2 separate regions of the Homo sapiens genome follow, and region 1 is linked to region 2. The links come from fine-mapping of genetic effects on gene expression. Tissue or cell type: testis. Region 2 holds a variant in brackets; the other region holds the start of a gene. All regions are shown on one strand. Distances are from middle to middle.

Region 1 (7,222 bases), 280 kb after region 2:
GAGATCTCTATAACTTTGTCAATGTGATAGATAATTCTAAAATACTGTGTCTAAGTGAATTGAGTGATATAACACCAGCAAAAGAGTTGAGGAGGGCAGTTAGACCATAAGGAAATATGAGACTTTAATTTTGAATATCTTGAGCCCAATAACACATTAAAATACCCTGGTGGAAATTCTCCGGCTCTCCCTGTCATGTGAGGGATTCTGTTTTTCTCTGAGGGATGCACTGGGGATATCGGATCTGGAGATGGCAAAGAGAAATTTAAGACAAATAAAAAACAAGCTAAGTTTGAAAACATCAAGGTCATAGCATAGCCACAGCTAAGATATGCCAGGTGTTCTGGCTGGATATTTGATCTCCCATCATCTTGACTCCATGCTGAGCTAAATGGCCTCCTACACTGATTATATTCAGGTATAGACTTTTCCTTCCACTCATCTACAGCTATCCAGCTTGTAGTCAGTCATTAGAACATGTTAACTTTATGACTTAAAAATGTACAAAAAATACTTATTTTACAGTGGCCTAAGACACTGAAGCCTCCAAATGTATGAAGTAGACACTAGGCCAAAGAGGTATTCTCTGACTGCAATACAAATATTTCTGATATCCTCTTGGCAAAGTTTAACTCATCCTTTAAGAACTAACTCAACAGTTACTGTCTCTATGTAGCCCACCTGACTCCCCACGGCAGTTAGTCTCTTCATTGTCCATGTTCCCATGACCCTTTGTTCTCTTTTATTTTTTTACTACAGCATTTGCCTCTCATTCTGTCAATACATCTGTTTCTCGCCACTAGGCTGGGAGTATCTTGAAGATGGGCACCACTTACTCATCTTCATATTTTTCACTCCCCTAACAGAGTAGGGGGCTACTGGGTGATAGTTCATTGTTGGAAGTATCCAAAAGGGGAATTTTAAAAACATAGATGGAGCAATGTGCAGTTGCTGTAACAAAGCCTGTGTACACATCATATGCCACATCCCTGCTGGCGCCATTAATGCTGCACCAGCAGAGGCAGCGCTCTCATTACATACTGCTGGCCCATATTTGTAATGTGTGACATTTTTTATGAAATACTGTCAAGGGCAATCCATCATATAGTAACCTTTGGATTATATGCTGAGAATGGTCTTAAACATAGACATAAATGAACTTGAAGAATAATGCTATTTTCTAAAAAGAGTATGATCAAAGAGTTCTAGCTAGGAAAATGAGACAGAATGGTAAGTTCTTTTAATTTAAACAGAAGTGCCTTAAAAAGAGGCTTTCTTCTGTCTAGCTCCAGCTGAAGACAGGGTTATTGTGTGAAGATGATTAGGTGACTCTGGAATGTGGCTGAATATTTATTTCTTGTAATACATGAGGTGAAGACTTGAAAAGGGGATGAGGACTTGCTAAAGGCTTGACAACCCTTGGGGCTTCCAAGGTTTTGATAACTTTATCTCAAGATGCATTTCTAAAAATAAAAGAACACATGATGACTTGAGTGAATTTCAGATGTCAACTGTGGACTCACAGTTAAAGGTATTCTCTCTGTGCATCTATTAAGATCTAGGATTTTATACATATTGTAGAGTATAAATTAAAGAAAGCTTCTAAGTCTTATCATTTTTGTGTAAATCCAGCTAAGACTCCTTTGATGAGCTCAGTGTTTGCTGTGAAGGAAAAGCTTATAGGTGAGAGGAACACTAAAATTATAATTCTTTGTCTTCCTTAATTAGACTAGAGCTCACCATAGACCTTGCTGAAACTGTGAGAAAATCCAAGCAATAATTCACACTGTCAGGTCAGCAGAAATGGGAATGCGGGTCTGATATAACTGAAAGATTTGCTTAAGTGATCTATCTATGAACTGAACCGCTCAGAATAGGCACACGATCTTCACTGGAAATGTACCCTCTGAAGATGCTAAACACAAACAGCAATGAAAATAAATCCCAGCAAGAGCCTTATACCACCTTTACAGATGTCATCCTAGAGGAAGGATATAAAGCATATTAATACCAATTGATGTAGGGCACTAATTAATAAGTCCCATTAAATCATGGAGTAATGACATTTAGCATGTAATGAATGCCTCATAATTTCTTCATCATTAATATTTCATAGCATAAGAACACAAGCATTTTCATCCCTGGGCCAGTGCAGCATGGTTTTCTGTCTCTGACATGACCACAAGGGCATTGAGTGGCACGAGTGTATTGCACCTCTGTGGTATAGACTGACTATACCGCACAAGTGATTAACTCTTAGCACCCCGGGTCCTAGCGTTTCCTCATTTTAGAAAATGTGAATCTGCCTGCCATTCTTGGAAGTAACCTCTGTGACTGGAAGATGGAAGAACTGCCCCAGGCTCAGGTGTTGACTTTGGTGTGTAGCATTGCTTTGCTGTTGACCCCCACCCCCCAGCCCAAGAAGGAAACCTGCACAGGAGAAAATCATTACTTTGATTTATTACTGGGGGCTTGCTGTATGCAAAGGCAATAATCACCTCATGGAGCAGGTGCCACTGCCAGGGTTCATTGATTCCAGGCTCTTCTAGAAATTCCAGGAGGCCAGTCAGTCTGGCGGGAGATGGACGTAGTCAACGAAAAAAGAAGTCCATCTCATAGCAGGTTGAAATGAAGTGGGAGAAAAATCTCTGGTCATCGTTCTATCGCTCCACTGACACTCGGTGTCTTTTTCTTTCAGAAGAGGGGCTTGAGCAGAGAGAATGCTTAGAGGCTAAGCGATGGGCAAGTGAGAGGGAAAGAGCCGCGACAGATAGAGCTGGCTGCCTAGGGGTCTCAGAGGCTTCATCCTGCAGGCGGCAGGCGGCAGGACAAAGGGACCTTCGGACTCCAGATCAAGATTCCAAGGAGTTAAACGCTACCACGCAGCCCGACCTGGATGGGATTTGCTCCTGGGTACAAAACGGGACACTGATCAAAATCAACTTGGACAAGTGACAAGAGTGAGTCTTATGTCGGTGGATGTCTTTTAAGGTCGTTGGAGGGAAGAGGACGGGAGGGGTGTGCCGAGGGGTAGGTGGAGAGAGGCACCGAGTCCAGAGCCGGGATATAAATGCACCAGGAGCCGGGGAGCAGAGGAGCAAATGAGTGGGGGAAAGTGTGAGAGGAAGAGTTGGAGAAAAGTCGGGGGAAAGTAGGGACAGGGTTAAGGGGAGAGAGGAGGATGAGGGCGGCGAGGAGAGATTAAAAGGGGAAGGGGGGTCGCTGGAGAGGAGGGCGGACTGTGGATCGGAGGTAGGGAGAGGGGCGAGAGGAGTGCGCGGGGTGGGGGGCGCCGGGGCGAGGAGAGGGGGCTGGGGAAGAGGAGGGGGGCAAGAAAGCGAGAGCGGCGCGGGGGAGGGCTAGGAGCCCGGGGGCCGGGCCGGGGGCGGGCGGGCGGTGGGAGGCGAGATCAGGCCAGGGGAGAGGGAGCGAGCCGGGCCGGGCTCGCAGGGCGAGGAGGCCGTAGGAGGGAGGTGGGGGGCAGGTGGGGGGAAGAGGGAGGGAGCGGGCGGAGAGCTGGGGCCAAGTGCATTGTGTCTGGCGGCGGCGCGCGAGCCCACCGGCGGCTGCGGCGGGGCGGGAAGCCATGGAGCCGCGGGCGCTCGTCACGGCGCTCAGCCTCGGCCTCAGCCTGTGCTCCCTGGGGCTGCTCGTCACGGCCATCTTCACCGACCACTGGTACGAGACCGACCCCCGGCGCCACAAGGAGAGCTGCGAGCGCAGCCGCGCGGGCGCCGACCCCCCGGACCAGAAGAACCGCCTGATGCCGCTGTCGCACCTGCCGCTGCGGGACTCGCCCCCGCTGGGGCGCCGGCTGCTCCCGGGCGGCCCGGGGCGCGCCGACCCCGAGTCCTGGCGCTCGCTCCTGGGGCTCGGCGGGCTGGACGCCGAGTGCGGCCGGCCCCTCTTCGCCACCTACTCGGGCCTCTGGAGGAAGTGCTACTTCCTGGGCATCGACCGGGACATCGACACCCTCATCCTGAAAGGTGAGCGGCGGGCGCACCCCGCGTCCCCGGCGCCCGCGCGTGGAGCGCAGCCCGCGGCTTCCCAGGGGCGCGCCGGTCCCCGCAGCCCCCTCCCAGCCGCGGCCCCGCGCCTGGGCATTCTTGCATCCTTCCCGCCGCCTCCAGTCTTTATCTCTTCCCTTTCTTTCCCCACTGCCTCCCTTCTTCTCCCTCTCCTTGACTCTCTTCTTTCGTCCACATCCTGCGCGTCCTTTCAAGTCCGTGCCGCACCTCCCGCCTCTGTCTCCTTCTTTCCTGCCTTCGCCTCCCATTCCCCGGTTCTCTCTCTCTCCCCGTCCTTCTCTGCCTTTGTACACCTGCCTGACATGTGTGTCTTTTCTTGACGCTGCTCCCCGTGAGGGGGACTAACCGTCAAAGACTCGACTTTTCTCACCCGGGCTCCTTCCTTCAAGTTGTGCTCCTTTTGGAAATACCGTTTGGAAGAAAAGTGGTGCCGACCTCCGAAGAGAGGGAAGGGGCTTTGCCTGTATTGTGCGGATGCTGGTGTCAGACGGAACTGATGTGGTCATCCCAGCCTGGCAGGGCTGATGGGCAGCGAAGGAGGCCCCGGAACCTTCCTTCATACCCCTGAAGTGCAGGGTGTGTGTGGATTAGACTTCAGAGACCAATCGTTGGCTGGTGGAGGCTGGTGGAGGCTGCCCGAGGCAGATAGGACACCTGCTTTCCAACCTTCCTGAGGACCCCATACCCCCACCCTCCTCGCTGTCCAGGCACTGAGGAGAGAAAATGTCCTCGCCCTTTAAACTAGAGCTTTCCAGATTTGGGCACTCACTCTCTGCTTATCACTCTGTCTTCTGTTCGTGGTACCTTGTCAGGTTGTTTTTGTTGTTTGTTTTGTTTGGCACTGAGTTGCAGAGCATCAATTTGTTCTTCTGAAATCTGTGCAACACCTGTCTTCTGTGAATGCTATCAGATAGTTTGATTTTTTTTTTTTTTTTGGTAATCCCATTCACGTAAAAATATTCAGTGTGACAACTTGTGAAGCTTCCTTTAACTTTCAGAACTTGACTCAATGTATTTTTTTCCCCTTTGAGATTAAAAAAAAAAATCAACATCTCTTCTCTTGGACTCATGATGCCAAAAAAGAAAAAGTCCAAAATCAGTACATTTTAATATTTAGTAGCCATGTAGGAAAACAAACAGACGGATTTGTGTTGAGTTACAGCCTGGAATGGAATGACATAGAAAAGAGGGGGTTAATAATGTGTTGGCCTTCAGAGTCTTGCTAGTTGGCGGATTCTTCATTTCTCAAACATGTCAACTTCCTCCTTCCCATGGCTAACTCAGCTGGGGACTGCCATCCAAAATCTGTCTGCGTGTGGAAGGACTCCAGCACTTTTAGGGGAACCAGATACAGTAAAATCTTTTGGGAAGTGCACCATTTTCTTTTCTCTCCTAACTTGCATCCAAATCTGATTTCTCCTCATGAAGATGCTGCATAATTAATTCTGATAGTAGCATAGTACATGAACAAACTGTAAAAGCTGAATGTGGAGGCTCAGTTATGGAGTGCTCATTTAGGCAAGGCAATTTTGAAAGCTAAGCAGTGTAGTCTGTCTTTGGAAATGACAGAACTGCATTTCCTTACACTTTCTATGCTTAGAGTATTTGATTGCATGTAAATTGGATATAGAGCAATGCCTGAAACAGCAGGGCAGAGTCAAACCTACAGTAGAAGAGGGGACCCCCACAGGATATTGCACAATGCCTCTGCAAATGCCCTGGCTAACTGAGGTGCCAGTTCCAGGGCAGTCCAGGGTCAAATAATAGAGGTGGAAGGACTTTAGAGGTCATTGAAGTTGAACATCTACTGGTTGTTCAAATTCCCTTCTACAATCTTTCTGACAAATGGTTGTCTAGCCCAGTACTTCCGTAAGACGGAACTCATATACTCGTTAAAAGAACTAGATTTTCCCAGTCACGAATGCCTATTTTTAGATGAAAACAATCTCAGCTTTATAATATTGATGGTGTTTAGCTAATCTTTTGTGTAGAACACTGAAGAGTTCTAGGTTGTGAACAGAAGATATGGGCCCCATTGCTGGCTCTGTTGCTAAATTGCAGTGTGTTCTCCAAGTATCAAGACCTTCTTCGCCTTCGGTTTCCTTGTCTGTGGTATTATTAGGAGGGATGACTATTCTTTAGAGAAATTTCTAGTTCACATATCTGTCATTGTTATAATTAATAACAATGTAAATTTAGCTTCTTGCAAAGTTAATGAGCCAACGCTATTAAGCAATGAGGAGTTTGGAGGAAAGAACAGGCATTGGTAGATTATAGGATCATAATTTGTTGTTTGGGAGATGTCCAGAAATGCCTTGTAATGTTGCTACTAACCAACCTTGGGCTAGTTACATAATTCTTCTAGATCTCAGTTTCATCATCTGTGAAATGTATGGGTGACAAGAGCAGCTTTAAAATTCTGAGTCTATGAATAATTTGAGAAAAGAAAATGTCACCAACATTTTCCTGGCTCAAAGATGATTTTGGCACCCATATTAGGCAAACATTATCACCTTTGTTTTGGCATCTGACATTAGTGGCTGTGGTATGAATTTCTTAAATGAGCCATTTATAAAACTAGAAATTAACACTGTATCTAATTTTAAAATTTGAGCAACTAGAGTCCCAAGTTCCATTCTTTCTTCTATGAGTTACCTTGTTTATGAGTCTTAGCATCGTTTAGAAATTTTAATGGTAGGAAATGAAAAGTTTATTCAGATGGGAGAGTGGGGAGGGGTGGAAAAAGGGCTCAAGAACTGTCTGGCATGCTTAGTGAGCTTCTGAGAGGCAAAGATGTCAGCATTTTCTTCTCTGGACCTAGAGGGCAAAGCTAGGAGTTGAATGAGGAGTGCAGGGAAGAAAATGTAGAGTTGATAATATGGAAAACATTCTCATAATAGGAATTATTTACATTTCCTATTACTGGAGGCAAGACAAGAGAGATATATTTCTGAGAGATGTACAGGGGATAGAAACATGCAATGTGGGCAATAAGAGATTAATTTAGAAATATGCAAGGCTCTATAATATTAGTCTACTTAAGAGAAATCACTGGAGCTAGAAAAGCATTTATCTCAATGGGACAAGTATTTGGGAGAATCATCAAGTTCTTGTTTTCACACTCTTATTATGATACAAGTTCACTTCTATCTAGCCCAGAGCCTGGAATGGTCTAGGCTTGACGTTTAGCCAGA
Region 2 (7,222 bases):
AGTAACCAGCAATGGGATCTGAGCAAGTAATTTCCCTTGTGTCTTCTTCCTGACCCCTCTGCCCACAATTTAATAACATGAAGGTGAAGACAGGCTATTTCTAAGGTTCCTTCTAATTCTAAAAGTCAATGTTTATATCAAATAATTTCATTCTAAATCAACAGATTCCAAATACTGAACCAGCTAGTTGGTTATATAAAAATCATATAAAGAGTTTAAATACAAAACAAAACAATAACAAAATACTGCTACAAATTTTGAATTCTAGGTCAAGCGATTAAGAATGGGACCCAGGATTCTGTATCTTAAGCTACTGAGGTACTGCTGATACACAGTCAGGTTTGGGGACCCAGTTTAAAGCACTATGTTACTGACTTTTAGAAAATGTAACCACCAACTTATAAGCCTGAAAAGGTATTACAGGAATGATGGCATGAAGATGTTACCATTTATGCAGAGGTTTGAAAAGATGGCCTGAATTAGGAAAAACATACAAAAGGGATGGGGAAAAGGGCACAGAACGAAAAGCATGAGCAAAGGCTTGGGGACAGAAAACACAGACTATTTTGAGTGTACCAGGCCAGCCAAACCTCAGAGTACTTCCCATACAACTACTCCCTTTCAGAAGAAAATGGATAACCCATGCTCACTGCTGAAGGGATGGCTTCATGTTCGCTTTCCCAAAGTTGATTAGACTAGGTGTATTAGTTTGTTCTCATGCTGCTTTAAGGAATTGCCTGCGACTCGGTAATTTATAAAGGAAAAAGGTTTAATTGACTCACAATTCCGCAGGGTTGGGAAGCCTCAGGAAACTTACAAGCAAGGCAAAAGGGGAAGCAAACATGTCCTCCTTCACGTGGCAACAGGAATGAAAAGTGCCAAGCAAAAGAGGGGAAGCCCCTTATAAAACCATCAGATCTCATGAGAACTCACTATCATGAGAAGAGCAAGACGGTAATCACCGCCATGATTCAATTACCTCCACCAGGTTCCTCTACAACATGTGGGGATTATGAGAACTACAATTAAAGATGAAATTTGGGTGGGGAAACAGCCAAATCATGTCACTAGGTATGTGTCCACTACAAGGGCAACCAATTCATAGGAAAACTAACAGAGTGACATACATCCCTGGTTTACCCAGAGTACTCCTGGTTATGCCTATTGTACCGGTAGAATTATTAATAATTCTACCAGTACAATAAGAGTGCCTGTGTTCACTCTTAAACAACTGAACATTTATTAAATTTGGATGATAAATTATAAGGTTAATATACCAATAAACCCTGAGCTGACATGAAAATAGGAAACAGGGCAAATTCTCTAAAATAGGGATCAGCAAACATGTCTATTTTTGTAAATAAAAGTTTTACTGGTACATAGCCACATGTACATGGCTCATGTCTGTAATTCCAGCACTTTGCGAGGCAAAAGTGGGCAGATCGCTTGAGCCCAGGAGTTCAAGACCAGCCTGGGAAACATGGTGAAACCCTGTCTCTACAAAAAATACAAAAATTAGCTGGGCTTGGTCTTGGTAGCATGTGCCTATAGTCCCAGTTACCCAAGAGGCTGAGGTGGGAGGAGGATCAATTGAGCCCAAGAGATCAAGGCTGCAGTGAGCTATGATCACACCATTGTCCTCAAGCCTGGGCAACAGAGTAAGACCAGTATTAAAAAAAAAAAAAAAATTCAATGGCAGAGTTGAGTAGCTAAGACAGAGGCCATATGGCTCACAAAGCCTGAAGTATTACTATCTGACCCTTTATCGACAACTTGCTGATCCTTGCTTTAAAACAGCACTGTCGGCCGGGCATGGTGGCTCAAGCCGGGCGTCGTGGCTCATGCCTGTAACCTCAGCACTTTGGGAGGCCGAGGTAGGCGGATCACCTGAGGTCAGGAGTTCAAGACCAGCCTGACCAATATGATGAAACACCATCTCTACTAAAAATACAAAAATTAGCTGGGCGCAGTGGCATGTGCCTGTAATCCCAGCTACTCGAGAGGCTGGGACAGGAGAATCGCTTGAACCCGGGAGGCGGAAGTTGCAGTGAGCTGAGATTGCGCCACTGCGCTCCAGCCTGGGTAACAAGAGCAAAACTCCATCTCAAAACAACAACAGCAACAAAACAAAGAAAACCCAGCATTGTCCAAAAGAACTTTCTGCATTGATGGAAATGATCTGTATCTGCAATATCCAATACATTAGCCCCATACCACATGTGCCTATTGATCACTTAAAATGTGGCCAGTGCAAGTGAAAAACTGAATTTTGTTTAATTGTACGTGTGTACAAAATGAAATATTTAAAATTTGGAGTTTTTAATTTTTTTAACTACCAGACAATAAAATGGATTTTTAAAGATACAGTTCTAGTAATTTTAACACATATATTAGATTATGTAACCACCACCACCACCACCATCAGGAAATAAGAAAGTTCCATCACTGCAAAAACTCCAATGGAAGTCATAATCCTCCCTAAACCCTGGAAACACTAACGTGTTCTCTATGACTACAGTTTTTCTTTTTGAGAATGCCATATAAATTCATTCATTATATAACATCTTTAGACTCTTCTTTCACCAAGTTGTTGCATATATCATTAGTTTATTCCTTTTTATTGCTGAGTAGGGTTCCACTGTATGGATTTACCACAGTTCATCCATTTACCAGTTGAAGGGTATCTGGGTTGTTTTCAGTTTTTGGCAAATACGGAAAGAGCTGCTATAAACATTTGTATACAGGGTAGATAAATACCCAGGAGTGTGACTAGGTCATATCATATGGTAGGTATATGTTTAACCTTATAAGAAATTGCCCAACTTTCCAGAGTGACTGTACCATTTTTCATTCCCAGAAGCAACGCATGGTGGGGTTCCACTTGCTTCACATCCTTGCCAAGAGCTGGCATTGTATTTTTTATTTCAGCCATCCTAATAGGTAGGTAAATGCTATTTCATGGTGGTTTTAGTTTGCATTTCCTTGATGACTAATGATGCTCTTAGTCTATTCATGTGCTTACCTGCCATCCTTTGATGAACTGTTTTCCAGTCTTTCATCCATGTTTTTAACTGGAATATTTATTTTCTTACTGAGTTATGAGCGTTCTTCATATATATATATATATATATATATATATATATATATATATATTCTATATATGAGTCCTTTGTCAGATATATGATTTGCAATTTTTTTTTTTTTTTGAGACGAAGTTTCACTCTTATCGCCCAGGCTAGGGTGCAATGGCGCAATCTTGGCTCATTGCAACCTCCGCCTCCCGGGTTCAAGCGATTCTCCAGCCTCAGCCTCCCAAGTAGCTAAGATTACAAGCAACTGCCACCACACCCGGCTAATTTTTTTGTATTTTTAGTAGAGATGAGGTTTCACCATGTTGGTCAGGCTGGTCTCAAACTCCTGACGTCAGGTGATCCACCCGTCTTGGCCTCCCAAAGTGCTGGGATTACAGGCATGAGCCACTGCACCCAGCCAAATGTTTTCTTCCAGTCTGTAACTTATTCTTCATTCTTGTTAACAGTGTTTTTTGCAGAATTTATGAATTGAATTG[T/G]GCTCCCTACCAAATTCATATGTTGAAGTCCCAACCCCCAGCACTTTAGAACATGACTATATTCAGAGGAAGGGCATTTGAAGAGGTAATTAAGGTTAAATAAGTTATATGGGTTGGCCCTAATCCAACAAGACTGATGTCCCTTTAAGAAAAGGAAGAGATACCAGAGATATACATGCACAGTGAAAAGGCCATGTGAAGATGCACCAAGAAGGAGGCCATCTGCAAGCCAAGGAGAGAAGCTTCAGGAGAAACCAACCCTGCTGGCACCTTAACTTTGGACTTCCAGCCTCCAGAACTATGAGAAAATAAATTTCTACTGTTGAAGCCACCCAGTCTGTGGCATTTTGTTATGGCAGCCTTGCCAAACAAATATACAGAGCAAAAGTTTTTATTTTTGATAAAGTCCAATTTATCAATAGTTTCTTTTATGAATTGTGCTTTTGGTATCACATCCAAGATCTTTTTGCTTAACTCCAGGTCACAAATATTTTCTCCTGTGTTTTCTTCTAAAAGTTTTATGTTTTTACATTTAGTTTCATGATACATTTTGAGATCATTTTTGTGTAAGGTGTACAGTTTAAGTTTAGGTACATTTTTTTGCATGTATATGTCCAACTCTTTCTTATCATTTGTGGAAAAGTCAATTTTCCTTTCATTGAACTGACTTCCACCTTTGTCAAAAATGAATTGGCTATATTTGTGTGGATCTATTTCTGGACCCCATGTTGATCTATATTGATCTAGTGATTGTGTGTTTATCTCTTACCTACACTATACAGTCTTGATTAGTGTAATTTTTTTTGTTGTTCTTTTTTTTTTTTTGAGACGGAGTCTCACTCTGTTGCCCAGGCTGGAGTGCAGTGATACAATCTCAGCTCGCTGCAACCTCTGCCTTCTGGGTTCAAATGATTCTCCTGCCTCAGCCTCTTGAGTAGGTGGGACTGCAGGTGTGCCACCACGCCTAGCTAATTTTTGTATTTTCAGTACAGATGGAGTTTTGCCATGTTGGCCAGGCTCATCGCCAACTCCTGACCTCAAGTGATCTACCCACCTTGGCCTCCCAAAGTGCTGGGATGACAGGTATGAGCCACCACCACGCCCGGCCGATTATTGTAGTTTTATAGTAAATTTTAAATTTACAATCACAATAATTTTGTGATTCCTCCAACTTTTACTTTTTCAAAGTTGCTTTGGCAACAAAGGTCCTTTGCCTTTCCATATAAATTTGAGCCAGCTTGTCTGTTTAAAAAAAAAAATCTGCTGTTGGGACTTTTATTTGGAAGTACATTAAATCTATAGATCAATTTGGAAAGAACTGACATATTTACTATGTGGAGTCTTCCAATCCATGAACACTACTGGCAGGTGTCTCTGTTTATTTAGATATTGATATCTTTCATCAGTGCTTTGCAGTTATCAGCATACAGATCCTATACGTAATTTCAATTTTGATTTTAAAAGTCACACGTGGCTAGTGATAACTGCATTAGACAGCACAACTCTAAAATGTTTGAAACTGGAAATACTGAGAAATAGCACCACCATGCAATGTAACTCACTGTGAAACCATGCTATGTGCCAGTGTCACAGCATGCAGGACTTTGGGCATAAAGTGAAGTTTTGAAGAAATAGAAAAGACGCAATGAAGAGACAATCAATAAAGAGCAAATAACCCAACAGATGGACAGAAAAAATTACAAGACCATAAGAAAAGAGCAGATCTCCAAGCTGCCTTGAGTTCCTGACAAGCTTCCAGTTCCGTGTATCATGTATCTTTACAATAGCCTCTCTTTTCTTAAGTTAACTTGAATGGCTCTTTGTTTCTTAAAACCAGATAATTAAAGATCTACATTTCTAGGACTACCTGGTCCTAATAAAAAAAAATTTTAAAAACAGATTGAGGCTATCATTAACTTTCAAAAAATGCACTTAGCAGATAATAATTGGATATAGACATGGAAAATAATCTGTGAGTGATAAAAGAGTACAGACAGTTCCAACATATCAGTAATTTGTATTTCAAAGTTTAATTCTGAATTTTGGAATTCAAAAATGGACCTGTTCCATATCAATAACACTTCTAAATGGTAACTGGCAGACCACACTAATAATATGGATAAAACTTAACAGTAGCACTGAGTTTGGGAAAGCATAAGAGATCAGGTAACCAATTCCAACTTTGCACTATAGAAGCAATAGCAGCAGCATTTCTAGCCCAAAGGTGCTCAGACCCCAATGTGCGTAAACACCTTCCAAGATTTCACTTTTGGAAATAAGTTAGACTAGATATAAAATATCCTTCCATTACAAATATCTAGAAATAGCAGACAAGATACAACAAACACTCTTTTACGTGCACTGAACTCACAAGCAAATAAATTCACAGGTGGCACAAAGAGATGTAGTATAAACAGCTTTAAAAAATCTGTTAAATGTATTTACTGAATAAAATCAGAGCTGTAAACAAAAGCTCAAGCCATGGCCTTAGATTAAACTTGGAATCTAGGGACTTCAGTTTTGATTTTTATTAGATGTGGTGAAAGCTGAAATTGGGACCACTGCATAAAACCAGCAATGCCCTTGAAGAGTCACACCGCACAGGTAGGTTGGGGAAAAGGGCTCTATCCACAACAGGCAATTTGTTCAAATCAGGCCTTCACTAGAATCAAAATATCTTCCCTGGAAATCCATAATCACAAGTCTGTCCCCAGTAGAGCATAGGGTTAAAATTTACACTGATTTTGAGGGCCAGGAGCCTCAAGTCAAGAAATAAATTTAAGTTGTTTCTGGGTTGGTGGTAACACAAGGCACCTGGCAGAGGGAGAAACAAATTATCTGTAGATAAACACATCTTCAACCCATACTCCAGGAAATTACCACATAATATTATTAGGCAGATATGAGCTTAAAACAAAATTATCAAGCATAAAAGGAAACAAACCACCAGAGCAGTAAAAACTATGAAAAACCAAATCAAATCCATAGAAGTTAAATTTTAGGAATTAAAAGATATATAACATTACAATCAAGTACGCTTTAAAAGTTTAAAGAAATAAAAGAAGGTATTAAATACATAGGACAGATTTTTTAAAAGTTAACACTAGAAATAAATAAATACATGGGTCAGAAGCAAGAGGCTAACAAAAATGACTTGGCAGACAGGACAAAAAGAACAAAATAGAATTTCTAGAAATAAAAAACGAAATTAAAAACCTAACTGGTGTACACAGACATAAAATTAGACAAAATGGCAGATCTGAAGCAGCAAAGAGAGCAAGAGATAGAAAATGAGAGATTAAGAGACACAAAGAATAGAATAAGAAAATATACATCTAATTAAACAAGGAAGGAAGAGAGAACCAATATTTCAAGACACCATGGCTGAAATTTTTCCAGAATGGGTAAAAGACAAAACCTCAGATTCAGAAGACACAGTCTCAAGGAGAGCAAATAAACAAGAAATCCACATCTAGACACACTACATGAAACTGCAAAAAAACTAAAGAAAAAGAAGTGATCTTTAAAAGCACTCAGAGAAAAGGAGTCAGATTATCCACAAAAGAACAACAATTAGACTTTTCAGAGAAAAAAGAAAGCCAGAAAGACTGTAGAAAATGCAGTGCTGAAAAAAAGTTAAGTCAGTCTAGAATT

The links. PIP is the estimated chance that this variant, and not a neighbour inherited with it, causes the effect. A credible set is the group of variants that fine-mapping cannot tell apart.
Region 1: TMEM178A starts here. The variant in region 2 is the best candidate, but not a certain one, in a credible set for the expression of TMEM178A in testis (GTEx, PIP 0.86).

The regions. Positions count from the first base shown.
Region 1 is chr2:39,662,389-39,669,610 of GRCh38, forward strand. It overlaps TMEM178A (transmembrane protein 178A), which reads left to right and starts at 3,529. Exons shown (of 4, transcript NM_152390.3): 1 at 3,529-3,986. The coding sequence starts at 3,587.
Region 2 is chr2:39,382,441-39,389,662 of GRCh38, forward strand. The region is part of intron 1 of MAP4K3 (mitogen-activated protein kinase kinase kinase kinase 3); the gene reads right to left. Among named protein-coding and RNA genes, the nearest start is that of MAP4K3, 51 kb to the right of the region's middle. The variant T/G (reference allele first, on the strand shown) is at 3,569.